Regions from separate parts of the Homo sapiens genome. Here region 1 is linked to region 2. Evidence: fine-mapped expression QTL. A gene starts in region 2. The other region holds a variant in brackets. All regions are shown on one strand. Distances are between the middles of the regions. Region 1 has its middle 23 kb from the start of PP12613. Region 2 holds the start of SMIM43 (small integral membrane protein 43).

What was found.
Region 1: its variant is fine-mapped to the expression of SMIM43 in lung (TOPMed, PIP 0.99).

Annotation. Positions count from the first base shown.
Region 1 is chr4:121,737,685-121,746,025 of GRCh38, reverse strand. No RefSeq gene overlaps it. Among named protein-coding and RNA genes, the nearest start is that of PP12613, 23 kb to the left of the region's middle. The variant AG/G (reference allele first, on the strand shown) is at 5,059.
Region 2 is chr4:121,760,123-121,768,463 of GRCh38, reverse strand. It overlaps SMIM43 (small integral membrane protein 43), which reads left to right and starts at 3,300. Exons shown (of 6, transcript NM_001384332.1): 1 at 3,300-3,647; 2 at 4,592-4,700; 3 at 5,666-5,737; 4 at 6,572-6,634; 5 at 6,769-6,926; 6 at 7,990-8,341. The coding sequence starts at 3,359. The coding sequence ends at 3,550. PP12613 (a long non-coding RNA gene) reads right to left here and starts at 3,879. Exons shown (of 1, transcript NR_024365.1): 1 at 1,656-3,879. RefSeq lists an enhancer at 7,286-7,455.

The DNA.
Region 1 (8,341 bases), 22 kb after region 2:
CTATGCAGCCATAAAAAAGGATGAGTTCATGTCCTTTGTGGGACATGGATGAAGCTGGAAACCATCATTCTCAGCAAACTATTCCAAGAACGAAAAACCAAACACTGCATGTTCTCACTCACAGGTGAGAATTGAACAATGAGAACACTTGAACACAGGAAGGGGAACATCACACACTCGGGCCTGTTGTGGGTCAGGGGAAGGGGGGAGGGAAAGCATTAGGAGATATACCCAATGTAAATGATGAGTTACTGGGTGCAGCACACCAACATGGCACATGTATACATATGTAACAAATCTGCACGTTGTGCACATGTATCCTAGAACTTAAAGTATAATTAAAAAAAAAAAAGAAAATGTGGCACATATATACCATTGAATACTATGCAGCCATAAAAAAGGATGAGTACATGTCCTTTGCAGGGACACGGATGAAGCTGGAAACCATCATTTTCAGCAAACTATCACAAGGACAGAAAACCAAACATCACATGTTCTCACTCATAAGTGGGAGTTGAACAATGAGAACACATGGACACAGGGTGGGGAACATCACACACTGGGGCCTTGGGGAAGGATAGCATTAGGAAAAATACCTAATGTAAATGACGAGTTGATGGGTGCAGCAAACCAACATAGTACATGTATACCTATGTAACAAATCTGCACGTTGTGCACATGTACCCTAGAACTTAAAGTATAATAATAATAATAATGATAATGATAATAAAATATTTGTGGGACATTTAAAAAAATAAATAAATAAAATAAAATTTAGGAAAACCACTTGTGAATTTTTTTTCTTTTTTTTTTTAATGCCAGAGTCTCACTCTGTCACCCAGGCCGGAGTGCAGCGGTGGGATCTCGGCTCACTGCAACCTCCACCTCCTGGGTTCCAGCGATTCTCCTGCCTCAGCCTCCCAAGAAGCTGGGACTACATGCGCGTGCCACCACACCCGGCTAATTTCTGTATTTTTTGTAGAGACAGGGTTTCACCATGTTGGCCAGGCTGGTCTCAAACTCCTGACCTCAAGTGATCCTCCCGCCTTGGCCCTGCAAAGCGCTGGAATTACAGGCATGAGCCACAGGGCCTGGCCTGTGAAATTGTTTTTGAACCTAATATTTGGATATCTGACATGCCTTCAGGGGAAGAGGCCTCACCACCCTGGTCCAGTTGTAATGCTCAAAGGCAGGATTTGCTTGACTCTGGAAAACCTGGGTCCCAAGAATTCTTGAGATGGAGAGCTTTCCACGTGACTTTTTGCTTTCTTTTTTGAAGAATATTGCAAATATATCCTTATTTCTTTTTCTGAATATAAAAGTAATGTGTACTCAGTATAAGTATTCAGACACTTATTAAAGATATTCCATAATCCTATGCCCTTAATTGATTTTCCTATCTTTTTCATATATATAACATATTTTTATTATTTTTCGAGTCATAATTTGGAACCTATTCTAGTGCTGTTTTTTGTAATTGCTTTTCTCAATAATGTGTGACAGTTTTTATCTGCCTTACTTTTTAATTTGAATCATGTTGTCTGCAATCACACCAGATATTTATTTAAAGTAATTTAATGAACAGCCTCTCTTGGAGAAATATCAGAAAAGGTAAGTTACCAGTTGTGCAATACAGTTATTCCCCTACCATTCCCACTGAGATTCAGAAGTTATAGCTAAGGCCATTATAGCCATGACAGTTAAATACCATAGCTTTTATCAGTCTAAAGATTCCTTTTAGGATAATAACATTAAAATGTTCTCTACCCTAACACATTTGCTATAAATTTGTTCTGTTTTGATCTTCACCTTTACTTCTGTCTGCTGCTTTTATTAGTTGTACTGTAACCTTGGCTGAAAGCAGTGAAATTGTTAGAGGTTAGCACAGACTAGAACAGAGGCTTTCAAAAGGTTTTGACCAAGACCCAGTAAGAAATGCATTTTGCCTTGTGACCCAGTGCACATGAAAATAAATGAAATACAAGTTTCATTATACGGTACACTTAAGTGAAAGGCACTCTGATACTTTCTGTTTTATTCTAATTCTATTCTAGTCATTTTATGTCATTAAAAAATACTACTTGCCCCCTCTCACTCTATCCACTAAATTGATTTCAGGACCCACTCATTGGCTTTGATCTGCATTTTATAAAACAGATTTGGAAGATAACTTCTGCCTTGTAGCTGGAGGAAACTCCTATTACCTGTGAAAATAAATCCCAATGCTGCTTGCAGATTGTTCTTATCCCATCTATAATCTAAATAATTAATGTTTAAAAGTTAACCTTGATAATATGATACATTATCATATTTAGAAAATTTGTATTGAAACATAATGTATAATAAATGTGTTAATATTGAAAAAAGTGCTATTCTTATTATTTAAAAGTCTTCCTGAAGTTTTAAAATTAGGGCTGATTACCATATATATTTTATTTTTTAAGTCTATTAGAGAAAGTAATCATGTGATTGATTAGGTAGCTGGTATTTCTTCTCTCAATGGGATTTTTACTGCTTAATTTAAGTCCATGGTTGTCTGTGGGTCTTTACTATCACTCTAACACTTCAGGACACTTTCCTATTTGGTTATAATAGTGTTTTGTAATGGATTACTCTTTATTCTTTGCTTCTTAGCTTGATCTGCTTTCTTTTTAAATAACATTCTCAAAGCAAGATACAATAGCTAATACAGAAAACTTCAACTTTCTGTGCATTTTAAATGTTGTGTATAACTAATTTTTTTGTGTCCCTTACACAATCTATGTTTTGATGTACAATTTTGTACATCAAAATAGGATGAAAATGCAGAACCAAAAATGTGGTATGTTTCTCCTCTCCATTTGTTGAACTTTCAATACTGGATGGCAGAAATTAAAGCTGCATTATAGGACTGTGGACAGGGTTTAGGGAACCAGCAGAGACTGGGCAAGCACCTCAGGGACAGCCACAGTGGGGAGCTGGAGCTATTACCAGCCCTGGGTCTAGAGAGGTGAAAGGAGGGGCAGTTGCCAGGACCCAGGAGAGTAGTGGTGGGAAATATCCGCTTGACAGGAACCAGGGTCTTTGGAAAACACAGCCAGCGCTTGGTGACTCAACAGGGAGGGAAGAAAGGGAAGGAATACTCAGACCCCTCATTCCTTCCAACGATTCATTTTCTACCATTGCTTCCCAGTGGTCAAACCCAGACAAAACCAGAGGATGAGGGAGCCCATTGATACCCCTCCTAGGACACAAGGTAGGGTGGAAAAGGGTGAAAGATAGATCTGGAGGGTCAGTGGGGAAATACCCAGCACACAGACCTACTTCAAAATTTTAATGGCTGCATGTATTCCATTAAACTTAGTAACATAATTTGCATAACAAACCTTGTATAGATGGATATTTTATTTAAATTTTTTCATTAGTATAAATGAATGAATTTGGAAGCCCTTATTAGCTAAGTCCTTGTCCACGTCCATAATTCTTTCCTTAGGATAACTCCTAAAAATAGAATTTTTGACTTAAAGCATGTGCACATTTTATATTTCTGTCATTGTTAGATTGATTTCCAGAGTTGTAATCATTTATACTCTACGTAACAGTACATGACCTTTTTTATATTTTCCAATCTGATAGATTAAAAAATTTTATTCTTGTAGTTTAAAGTTATTGATGAGATTGAACAAGCTAATTGGCAATTAGAACATTTTTATCTAGTATATGTCATCTTAATATTGGGATTCAAACAACAAAAAGTGAGACGAAATTGTTACATTGTTACAACAACTACTTTATGATATGAAGTCAGCTCCTTAGCAAACATGATATCAAAAAAGACAGAGAATTTATCTGGTATTTTGCCCCTTGGTCAATACACAAATAATTGAATTCATTAGCATCGTTAGGAACAGGGAAGGTCATGGAATTCAGAAACAAGTACGAGTCAAGTTGCCCTGTGGGTAGGTCTGGGAAGGCAGGATTTTACAGCACTAGGATGTCAAAGAATAATTAGAATTCTTCTTTCACGAGAGCTCTTCAGAATTTTCTCTTCTCTAGGTTAAACAGACGAAGTTTCTTTTAGAGAGTGCCAGACTCTACCGTTCTGTTTGCTCCCTCTGGCAGCCCTCCAGTTAGATTATATTCCACTTAAAAAGTGATGCTGTTGGCTCGGGTAAACAAGTCCTCACACACTATGGTAGGAATGTGAATCTGAATGGATACATTGAAGGGCAATTTGGCAGTATCTATTGACATTTAAACTGCACGTAATCAGTAATTCCACCTTTTCCTATCTTTATAGAGAAACATACATACACACTAGAGACATGTATAAGGATATCGATGTTAAAAGCAAAGGAATAGAAGCAACCTAAAGGGACGTCTCTTTAGCTAATTAATGACTAATTAATTAACAGCTAAACCATTAATTTATTCAGCAAATATTGTAGGTACATTGAGTACCTACAAAGTGTCAGGTACTGTTCTGGGTTATCGGGTACATGGCTGAAAAAAATAGATGATTCCTGCCTTTAGGAACTTACAGTCTAGAGCAGGGAGACAGAAAAGAAACATAAAACATAATTAGCAAATTATCTTGTGCCATTAGAAGGAGACACTGCTATGAAAAAGGAGAAAGTCGAGCAGCGTAAGGGGCCCTTGAAAAGCTGTAGTCAAATAGGTGGTCAGGGTAGGCCGCCGTGAGATGAGAGTTGAGTGAGGGATTGAAGGAGGCACAGGAGCCGGCACTGTGGGCATCTGGGGGAAGCCCTTCTAGGCAGAGGGAATAGGGAATGCGAAGGCTCTAAGGCAGGAGCTTGCCTGACATAATGGAGGTGCAGCAGGCCGGCCACTGTGGAGGGAGCCAGCAGGGGCTGGCGCCTGAAGGGGTGCTGAGGGAGAAAGCAGCAGCAAGTGGAGGGCCTTGTGGACCATGGTACAAACGTTGGGCTTTATTCTGAGTGTGATGGGGAGCCATTGGACAGTTTCAAGAGGAGGAATGATGGGTTAGTGCTTTCAAGTGAAGGAATAATGGGTTAGGTCACTCTGCTATGTTGAGAAGTGACTTGAAAGGGCAAGAAT[AG/G]AGCCAGGGAAACCGGTTTAGGAGGCCCCACCCACAATCCAGGAGAAAGATGATGGTTGTTTGGAGGCCCCAGCCACAATCCAGGGGAAAGATGATGGTTGTTTGTATGCGGGCGGTGAGCTCTTTGGGGTTGGCTCCTGCATTTCTTTTATGTATTCCACCCTTTCTTTTTGTGAGCACTCTTTACTTTCTTACAAGATGCTCTGGGCCCAGCTTGTATTTTCCTTTTTTCTTTTCTTTTTTTTTTTTTTTATAGTCAGGGTGTTTTTATTTTTGTTGTTGGTTGGTTGATTTTAATTAAACCTCAACTTTCCAACTTGTAAAGAGATGTTAAAATCTTAGATTTCTAACCTTACTTATTATTTTTTTGCTTTATTGACATATAGTTGACAAATAAGGAAATGATAAAAATTTCTTCATACAGTTATCCCACATATTAACTCTCTTAGGCTGTTGTCGTAGGAAACTTGGCTAACTTTTTTGCCTTTTATGTCTTTATCTGGTTTCTGGCAAAATCATTGTTTAAGTTTGGGTCAGATATAGGCTTAGAACATGCCCATACTTCCTTCTAGGCTGTTTGACGTGGATTCATTTCTCAAGACACTTCGAGTTTAGTTTTCAGCTAGATATCAATCCACCTAACTGTTCTATCATCCACACCACATCTCCCCATCTTGTCAATAGAAAATCACGAAGTTTTGTCAGATACCAGGGGAAAACTACTTTTTACTATGCTTATGGCATTTCTTATTACGGCCCAAGAGAATCAGTTTATATTGCAGGAAGGCAATGGATGATGCCTTGCAGGGAGACAGAGAAAGCTGTGAACCCTTATGAAGATGGGGCCCTGGAAGTCTGAGTCGGACTGCCTCCACCATATGCAGTGTTCAAAGACAGGTGTTGAATTAGTGTACATTTTAGGCAGACTTATGTGGTGAAGCCTGAGAGTAGGTATCCAGGCAGTGGGTAGCATTGTACATCTGGATAATCAGTCCATTTACATTGGGTCAGAGGCCAGGACTAAAGGAAGCTGAACCTAGTGGACTAGAGCAAAGGATAAGCCTCTAGGACAAACTGGAATTAGAGAGCTAGGCAAAAAAAGTGAGTTAGAAGCCTTGTCATACGGTCTAGGCCAACATGGTGATGAATAGAAATAGGCTGTAAATCAGAATTTTACTCTGGGCTCACTGGGTGTCTGGTCAGTGACAGCAAGTCACTGATTCCAGATTCCTTATTGCCAACACAAACAGCCATGCTGAGATAGCTGGTGTACTTTCTAACCTGGTGGGCACAGTAGATTTTAGCCAGTCTTATCTACTGTGAAGAAACTGGAAATGATTGGCCTACATTTGGAATTTGATCTCCACTCCTACAAAATACAAAGTACGACTTAGTGGTTTTCAGATGGCTGCACTTCTAAATGCTCACAGACTCTATTTTTAAACATAGAATTTTGATATGGATTGACATTAAACTTGTTCTTTCATAATTTCCAGACTCCTCTCCTCACCCCAGCCCACTCTGTCTGCTTTTTGAAAAGAGGACCATTTGCCAGCCAGCCCCTAAACTTGTGGTTCTCACCCTGTTCTCCATGATTCCTCCACATTCCTTGCAGCTTTGACGCAAAACTGCCTTCACCAGCTGTGGCTTCTCAGAACCCACACAGAGGAAGGGAGGACATTTGGACAACAGATTTTCTAACAGCTGAAATAATCAATCAGTACTACATTTTGTCTCTGTGCCAGCTATTTCTCTGAATTAAACTGCATTATTTTATCTAATGCCTGCCCAGGATGCCTGTCTTACATGAATTTCACTTTTTTTCTCTCATTTTATTTGCAACTGAAATGATCTCACAATGATTGATTCCATTCTCTAGTATATGAATTTCTCTCACTCTCTGTTGGCTAGCTCTACTCTATTAGAGAGGCAGTGCTTAGATACTGGAGCCAGGCTGTTGCATTTAAATCCTAGATTGATCACGTGACTGCCTCTCTGTGCCTCAGTTTCCCCATCTGAAAAGGCAGATAATAATACTTGAGAAACACCTTGAACATATGTGACCATATGTGATGTATAGTTACTGATCATGTTACCTAGTGTTTCTGCTAGGTAAAGTAGTCTTCATCACTGCATTCTTACTTTTTTGTCCCATTTCACAATATCTTCTTTTGTTTGACACAGTATTCCTCTCCTTTTGCTAAAATTTTAAATTCATTAGATGTATTATGAATTAACCTTTACTTTGATAATCTATATAGATATCTGAAGTCATGGTATTGTTCCTAATCCACTTCCTTGTTTCTGCCAAGACTTATTAGTCTGCTCCTATGCTATTGTTCTTCCCATGTGATTCCTGGTATTCTTCATATGTGTACAGTTGTATCTGGGCATTTTTTCCTTCCCTGCAAATGTCAGGTTGGCACTTTTCTGCCGAATGTATTCTTTCCAGCTTATGCAAAAATAGTCCAGCCTCCACAAGAGTCCACTGTTCCAGAAATCCAAATTCACCCCTATCCATAAAGAAAGCCGGCTGGTTACTTCTCACATCCTCTTTAATCTTGCAAAGTCACAGACTTCTCTTGGAATGAAAGATGAAAACACACCCCATGCCCTGAGGTCCTTCAGCCTCCTGCTCAGAATTTCAGAATGCACACAGAGACATTTTGGAGAGTTCTGACTATATTCAGTAGGCTCAGATGAACCATTAAAAGTTAGTAGTAGTAGTAGGATTTGATCAATGTCAGCAGACTTTTTGACCTAACTAAAACATAATCAAGAGCCAAAAATCTATGAACACAGAGATAACGAGCATCTGAGTAGTTGAGAGGAGAGAGAAGCAATGCCAGGATCTAAATATTTCCAGCGCGAGCCCTCTGATGTTCATGGGGCCTGGAGGGTTCCACATTCATTATGTGTGTGAGGTTTCTGCCCAGCAAGGCTGCTGACATGAGGCAAAGCAGAGCCCTGGCGAGGATGTTTCTGGGGTCACCGCACATCTGCCTTCTCCAGCGTGTGTTCTGTGATGGACAGTAAAGGGTGAGACGGAATTGAAATGTTTTTCACATTCATTATACTTACACGTTTTCTTCTGTGTAGAGAGTCTCTGAATTATGATACATTTTTTTCAAAGCTATAATCCAAACTGGATTCTTTCTCTTGTAGGAATTTTATGACGTATAACAAGATCTGAGCTGCTCTCCATATTTGTTAAATTGCATTAACTTCATAGCCTCACTGATTTTTTTTTTCCTTTTTTTTTTTTTTTTTTTTGAGACGAGT
Region 2 (8,341 bases):
CAGGCAAACACTGGCTCATTTGAAGTTCTGACCTTCAAGATTTCAAAAGTAGGAGCTGAGATGCAGAAGGCATATGTCTCTTGAAATGTGTTTCTTTTTAGTCTGACGCTCAAAAGAAAAAAATATGGTGATTAATTTGATGGTCATGCACACAAAAGTATACTTTTCCCTGAGAGGCAGTACAATCATGAGGGTTGGGAGTGCAGGCTCTGGAGCCAGACTTCCTGGGTTCACATCCCTCTCCTGCCACTTGCCAGCGGTGTGGTCTTCAGCAAGTCACTTAACCTCTCCATGCTTCAGTTTTCATCCTTAGATACCTTGGATATCTGGATGGCAATGTGCCAAATCACATGCCTTTCCGACCAAACACCTCGTTAATTAAGAGTGCTTAACATGTGCAAAGTACTTAAGCAATGCTTTCTTAATTGGTTAGCATTCTCCTTTGAAAACTGGCGCTAACCACTCTGCCTCGCAGCAAGATTTCCTGGAAAGCCAGTGGAAGGTTACGGAATGGAAAGAAAGCAGGAGGGCCCAGTCTGGGCCAGGAGTTGAGGATGCTGTCGAAGCAGGTAGCAGTAGCCATGGCTAGGTCACTCTTGGGACTGTTCTGGCACTCAGATTGCCTGTGCAACGGGGATGCATCTGACTTCCGAACATTCCTCCTGTTCTGTCAACTCCCAAGATTCAGAGTACTGGAGACAAGGATATTTAGCTAAATTTCTGGCATAGCTCTTCCTGCCCTCCTCCCCACACTGTATCAGGAGTGGGTAAAAGATATATCTGATCCCCTTGGTTTCCATAACAGGAGGTGGCAAGGGAAAGTAGGCACTGGGATCTGTCTTCTTGCCAAGATTACATAAAATGGAGAATTCCACCCGTAGGAACATGTGGTGCTTAGAGTGGAGGTGTGTGGATTCTGGGCAGTCAAAAAAAAAAAATCACAAATCTTTGCTAAACTTGTATAAGACTTCAAATTTCTCTCAATAGTCCCACGAGCAGTGTTGTGCTGGTTAATTTAACAACTGCCTCCCTGGTCCTGATTTGTAGCATTTGTCCATTTTCTCAAGGCAAACCCACTCATCATGGCTAATTTCAAGCTACCAACATGACAGCACTGAACACAGCTGGGAAGAGATGCGCAGTAACATACCACTATGCAGCATCTTCACCACACAGCTACAACAGATGTAAATAACCTCAAGTGCATAGACAGCAGTGAAATGTAGTACTGAGGTTGGTGCAAAAGCAATCACGGTTTTTGCTTTTAATGACAAAAACCGTGATTGCCTTTTTACCAACCTAATAAAATAATTAGAAAGTGATGAGTTTGGAGTATTAATTACCTTTGTTGTTAACATAATTGTAGGTTTATATAATTTAACTTTTAATAATAGCTGGAATTTAAAAATTGGTTTACAAAATTTAACAATCAGCTCCTGTGAGTCATTACGAGCCAGCTCCAGCATACCACTGCCTATGAAGTGGATCAATATAATGTTATTGAGAGAGAGACAAAGAGAAAATGAAAGAAAGATTCTTCTCACTTATGCACTAAGATGCTTGATGGAGAGGCCTAGGGCCTGGAAATTTTGTACAATAGCTTGTAGCATTGGGGGCCCTTCGTAATAGAATAATAACAGTATCTGACATTTATATAGCAAAACACATTTTTATTTAACATTTTCTCATTTTTGAGCCTCACAACAAATCCAAGGGAAAGATAAGCAAGGCATGTTACAGATGAGGGGACTGAGAGTCACTGAGCAAAAGTGACCACTGACAGAGCTGACACTAGAATCGGGTCCATGAGACTTGCAGTTCACAGACTGTTTTCATACCACCCTGTCTCTTTGAACCCCTGTCATCCCTGGAGCAGCCACTTATTACAATCTGGGATGTTGTCAGCCCTCATCCCCAGAATTCAGTCCAGGAGGCAATTCTGCATCTTCACAAATAAAGAATAAAATAAAGTTAGGCCTACAAATGGGCAATGATAGCTGGCTGTATTAACAGCTGTCATAGCCGACTCTAAGATGAGCCCCAGTGATCCTTACTCCTTGGCGTTCGTGTCCTTGGACTCCTACCCTGAATAGGGCTGACCTGTGTGACCAGTAGGATATTACAGATCTGATGGCACGTGACTTCTGAAGCTGGCGGTAAAGAGCACTGCAGCCTCTGCTTTGTTTTCTTTCATCACTTGTTCTGGGGGAATCCCGCAGCTGTATTGGAAGCACCCATGGAAGGGAACTGAGGCCTCCCACCAACAACCAGCCCTACCTGGCAAGCAGTGAGTGAGCCACCCTGGAAGTGGATCCTCCACCTCTACACAAGCATTCAGCTGAAGGCAGACCTGGCTGACATCTGAACGGAGCCTCATGAGTAACCCGACACCAGAATCACCCAGCCAGTGCTCCCACATTTCGGACCCACAGAAACTGTGAGAGATGATCAATGTTTATGCTGTTTGAAGCCACTAAATTTGGGGGTAATTTGTTCTGCAGTAATAGATACACTGAACAGCTTTTAAAGCTGCGCGATATGGGCTTTGGGTCACGTCAACCAGATACAGAAAGGCTTTAGGGACTCAAGAAACACTTTGAGTAAACTTGTTTTCCTCTTTTCACCAAATAAACTGAATTTGAGGCCAATATTTGAAATCTTTGTGCTATATAACTTCTGAAATACATTGTATTCTTAATGCGTTTCCAAGTGACCTGTTGTCCATAGAAAAGTACACTCAACACTGAATGTATCTGCTACTCTGAAGAGCAAGACAGCTCGAACTGGAATTCACTCAGACACCTCATAGCACGAAATCATCTCATAGCCTTTCAGACCCCATCTTCACTGCCACCTTTCATTCTTTTGGGTCTCTGGGCCATGACATCCCCTGTCCTTTCGGAAAGCAGGAACGGAGGGATATAACGAAATAAATTAATTGGGAACGCAGCGGAGCTAGGGACCCTACTGGATGTTGGGGGTGGAACTTTTAAATCATTTACAAAACACCAGTCCCGACCTCCCCTGGAAGACTGAGCTGTTACCTCTTCTGGCGTCCGTGCCCGCGGAAGTTCGCTCCTAGGGAAGTCGCTCGCGTCCTCAAGAGCACCTGAGAGGATCTCGGCGAAGCGGAAGGCTTTGGTGCCAGCTGGGAGAGTCTGCGCCGGATTTCCTCAGCTCCTTGGCGCGTTTCCTCGGAGCCGGGGGAGGCAAAGCACGGACCCCGGAGTCGGCGCCCATAGCGGGACGCCCTCGCGAGGGGCGGGAGTGCGGGAGGTGGGTGTGCGGGCGGCGCGCTCGCCCTCCAGCTGCAGCCCGCGCCGAGCGCGCAGGGCCAGCGAGCGCCGGCGCCTCCAGCATGGAGTGGGAACTCAACTTGCTGCTCTACCTGGCGCTCTTCTTCTTCCTGCTCTTCTTACTTTTCCTCCTGCTCTTCGTGGTCATCAAGCAGCTGAAGAACTCCGTGGCCAACACGGCCGGGGCGCTCCAGCCCGGGCGCCTCTCGGTGCACCGCGAGCCTTGGGGCTTCTCCCGAGAGCAAGCGGTGTGACCCGAGTGCGGGCACTGGCGGGAGGGCACCGAGCTGCGCGGGCGCTGGGCTGGGTCTCCGCCTCGATTCTCCGTCCTCGCGGCCTCCCAGCTTCCAGGTGCGGGGCTCGGCGGCTCTGACGGGTCCGTTCCGGCGTGAGGCGCAGGGACCCGCGTCTCCGCTCCTGTGGGAGGCCCGGGGCTCGCAGCGCGTTCGGGTGCCAGGGACGGTGGGTGTATGGGGTCTGGGCTGGCGCTGTGCTCTTCGAGAGGGACCCTAAGCTGTTCCAGGGCTGGGAGAGATGGCGAAAAGAGAATTCGCCCTTTGGAGCCGGAATGACTTTGGACAACTGCAAGCTCTTTTCTGTCCAACTGCATTTTAGTTATACCCAAGGAGTGGAAAAGTAAATTATTCGGATAATGCAGTTTAGCCACTTTCGAACAAAATCGCAGGTTAACCTGAATATCCACATTTTTGAGAAAGACTGTGTGGGCTTTGGGACGGGTGGCAGGAGGAAACGGGGCGCACTTAAAGTATTTTAAATATTGCTTTAAATATTTTTGCGCTTTGAGAGATGGTAAATGGGGTTCGTCTGGTGGTGCTGGGGTGGGGCGTGGGGGAGAGAAGATTCAGTCGTCCATTTGGAGGGAGGAATCCCTTCCTCCCGGTGATCCTTACTCATATTCTAGCCACCAACCACGGTTAGTGCTTGCGGATTGCCGTGCAGGGTAGGTTTCGAATCTGGGACAGCGGATGGTGAACGTTACAGTGAGAGTCATTTGGAAGATGCCTTAGGGTTGGCCGGTACGTGACCTTTTGGGTGATGGCATGGAGGGCCAGCTAAAAGAGGTACTGTTTGCATAGTGTAGGGAAACAGGAAAAAGGACGGAGAGGCGGGTCTGTGGTTTCAGGTTAAATTACTAGAGCTTTTGCAGAAGATGGGCGGGCAGGAGCAAACTCGAGTACCAGTATGCCCTAAGTACCCTCTCGCTAATGTTAGTTTGGGAAATATCTTCATCCTTCAGTAGCTTTTCCCTAGATTTATGTCATCTCTCTTTCTAGAGCCGAGCTGCTGCCCTTGACTGGTGCTCAGGGGACCACAGCTGCAATGACAGTTTGGGCCTGCAAAAAGAAGGCTGGAACAACGGGAGATGGAAGCTTTCTGCAAATGGTAAGTTGGGATGACGCATGGTTTCACGTTGGCCTTAGTTATGACTAAACTTCTAAAGATCCAGGGCCTAAAAACATGTTGGTTCAGGATGGGGGAAATGGGTACAAGGAAGGAAAGGGCACTCTCCCACTCAAATCTGGTGAGCTTCTACCAGATCCACAAAGCCAAACTGACTCCTAACTCATTGCAAGAATCAGTGTCTTAGTAGAGGATTGTGGAAATTTGAATGAGATGTCAGGAGTGTTTGCACTTTTAATAATCATTCGGCCCTTTTGAAAAACAGTGCGGGGGTTCATGGGGTGAAATATGTGATGCAGATATACTCAATCTTCAGTAAGGGAAGATTTGGGTTTAGTCATGTCAGTGTGGGATAAGCTAAGTCATAACTATAGTATTGAAAATACTAATTTTAGACACAAAGACCATATAGAGAGGCTAAAAACAATGAAATACTAAAGTTTGCCTAAGTTGATAATATAAAAGTGAAGTGTAAGACAATTATTTTAATGCTTCAAAGGAAAAATAGTCTCAGGTGAATAATTTTGGCCCAAGACATTAGATAATTTCCCACTTTCTATTTCACTCTCCCCAAATAGGCCTGTTCTTAATGAAGTAAGAGGTTTACTTTAATTATTATGGTATGAGCAAATCCTCACCTCTTTATCAGAGTTATGGTAAGACTTGATTTGAATTCCCAGTTTGAACTCCCTGAATCAACTGCAGTGATTCTGTATTGTGCTTTGAACAATAGTTCTCTAATTGGTTGATATCTCTGCAGTGGCATTTAGTTAAAAGGTTGTATGGTTAATATGGACATTGAAGATGAGTGTGGGAGTAATTAATTAGCAATTATAGTTGTTTGTAAGGATTGAAAACAATCATTTCACACTTTAGAATAACCAGAATGGAAATTATTTTAACCACATGCTTGCCTTCTTGAGTTTACAATCCTTTAATCTTCCTAGCAGCACCACTGGTATCCATGAATTTAACCTGCCCATCATTCTTCCTAAACAAGAGACTATTGAAAAGTCAGGGTGAGTAGTTTATTACCATCTCAGTATTAATCCAATCTCTCAGCTGGTTCTACTGACTCAGGTTCCTAAGAAAGCAGGGGTGCCTTTCTATCTTGTATCCAGGGCCATTTTATTAACTCCTTGTAATCAAATTCATTAATGACCAAGTTCCCATTTATCCAGGCCACAATGAATATTTATTCCTATTACTCAACCTCTGCTTGGAACTTGACTCTAAGCTCTGGGAATTAAGGTAACTCACATTTGCTCTTAGATCTTGCTGCTGTTGATCTCCTGCCCTGCACTTGCTTTGTTAGAGACTCTGCTTTTGAAACTTTGACAGCTGTAGATGAGCTGTCTTTTGCTGTTTATTTATTTATTCAATCATCATTTTTCCAAGACCTGACATAGACTGATCTCTCAAATTAGAACTACTTTCAAACTCACAATTTTGGCCACCTTTATGCATTTTTGGCTTAGATCAAATACTCTGACACCCACAATGGTCTAGGTTGCAGGCTTCTACATGTTGGCTACTCCATCCCCTGACGATCCCCTGTTCTGACAATCACTATGTGCCAAATCTATTTTTAAAGACTGTATATATATGAGCTAGACATTAAAGCACTTGAAAAGTCAAGAACATTTAACATAACTGCTTATTATATAAATGTAACTTGATTATAGAAGATTCCTGTGTTTTATTTTCAATAAAAAGGTTTTTAGTGATTCTTCAGCAATGTTAGAAGGTGACTTGAATTTCTTACATTATAAGGAAATGAGCCATAATTCTATTATGTAATATTTGTATTTTATTTCAAATGTTATTATTTCATCATTGTTTCTAAATTTCAGGTGTTCAAAATGGCTTCAGATCTTATCAGGACAATCTTGGCTGTTGCACTAATTTCCAAACTTGTAAGTGCAATGGATCTGCAGTTCTACTTGGCAAGATAACCATTTTAAGTTGAATGAGAATGACATCACACTCACACCTGCAAAATCTAAAATGTCTAATAAAGTAGATTCCTATGTCTGAACTTCAATTTTAGGGCACAGCTGTAGATGCAGAACTGATGCCATCTGGTGCGATTCTACAGAATAAGAGAGAAAATTTACCCAGAGTGTGCCATGCACTGGCTTTTCTGGGAATGGCAAGGTGCCAGGATTTGTTTTTGGTTCGCTTGCAGGGGTGGAAACTTGGAACTAGGTGAGTAAAAAATATGAAATACTCTATTTTTAGTTTGACATTCTATATTTCCAATTTTGTCTATAGTTTCAAAATCAGTGCAATAGAGTTAAATTTTAAATGACCAAAATTTTAAAGTTTGTAAATGGTTAAACCATTTAGAATAGTGGGAAATGTTTGTTGTTTTCTAAGTCACACTTACTAATCTAGAGACTGTTAGAACACTAAAGATACTAATGTAATGCATAAGGTATCTACACAGTGCTGTACTTTGTTTTTAATTTTTACAGCTACTCTGAGATATTCGTGCATATTTAAGCTAAATCCACAATTAAAACTCTAGGATCATTAGAATGTCACTGTCAGATGTCTGTGTCACATACAAGAGAAGGTTAAGAATTGAGTTGTAAATCTTTGATGTAGTTTTTTTTTTTTGTTTGAATCAGTGAAATAAATTTCTCAGTCCTCCACTTTTTATTTTGTCTACACAAAATAAATAATGTTATGGGTTAATAATGATCTGATTAAGTATCTGAGTCATGAGCATCTTCCCATACCGGAAGGTGGATTATCAGAAGGGCGTTCAGACCCAGTAATCAGAACTTAATAAGCATGCAGAAAAAGCTTTCTGATGGATTAAGGTTAAAAAAACCTTGTTTTTTTCCTTAATAGTAGCTTTTTATATAATAAGCCCAAACATTTCTGCCATTCTTGGTCTGTATAGACAGATCCTGAAGGACATGGGTGGGTTTGAGCTAAAACCATTATCTGCGACTTTTGTTTTATTAGTATGACTCTGAAGTTACTTGAATTTATTGAATAGGTACAGATTCTTCAAGCAAGATGTCTTTTCCTTTCAGATGAAAAATCACACTTTCCTATTGGGAATCAAGATGAATTTTTATCTTGGTAATGGAATAGGAAGTTCTGGACTGAAGAGCGGCTTAAATAAATTAGAGGGTTTGTTCTTTTCTCACAGAACAAGGAGGTTAGAGGCAGGCAGCTGCTGGTGCTGGTTCAGCAGCTCACGGGTGTCAGGCTTAATTAAGGTGGCTGCTGAGGTTCCCTTGGCTTTTTCCTCCAGGTTCCAAGATGGTCCCCGCAGCACCCCACAAGAAGAAGGAGGAAGCCCACAGAGAAAACGGGGCATGCCAGTTCAAATCCACTTCCTTTTAAAGAGCTTCCTCAGCAGCCCAATAACTTTTGCCTTCATCTCATTGGCCAGAACTGTGTCATTGGCTACTGCTATCTGCAAGATTGTCTGAGAAATGTAGTTTTTGTAGCTGGATATATAACTGCCTTTGACAAAAATCCAGTTTCTCTTGATGAAGAAGAAGATGATGGTGGATCTTGGGAGGACAACTAACATTTTATGCCCTGGCTACAGAATACAGTTGCAGAGGAGCATAAAGTTCAAAAAGATCAAAACTCTAGTT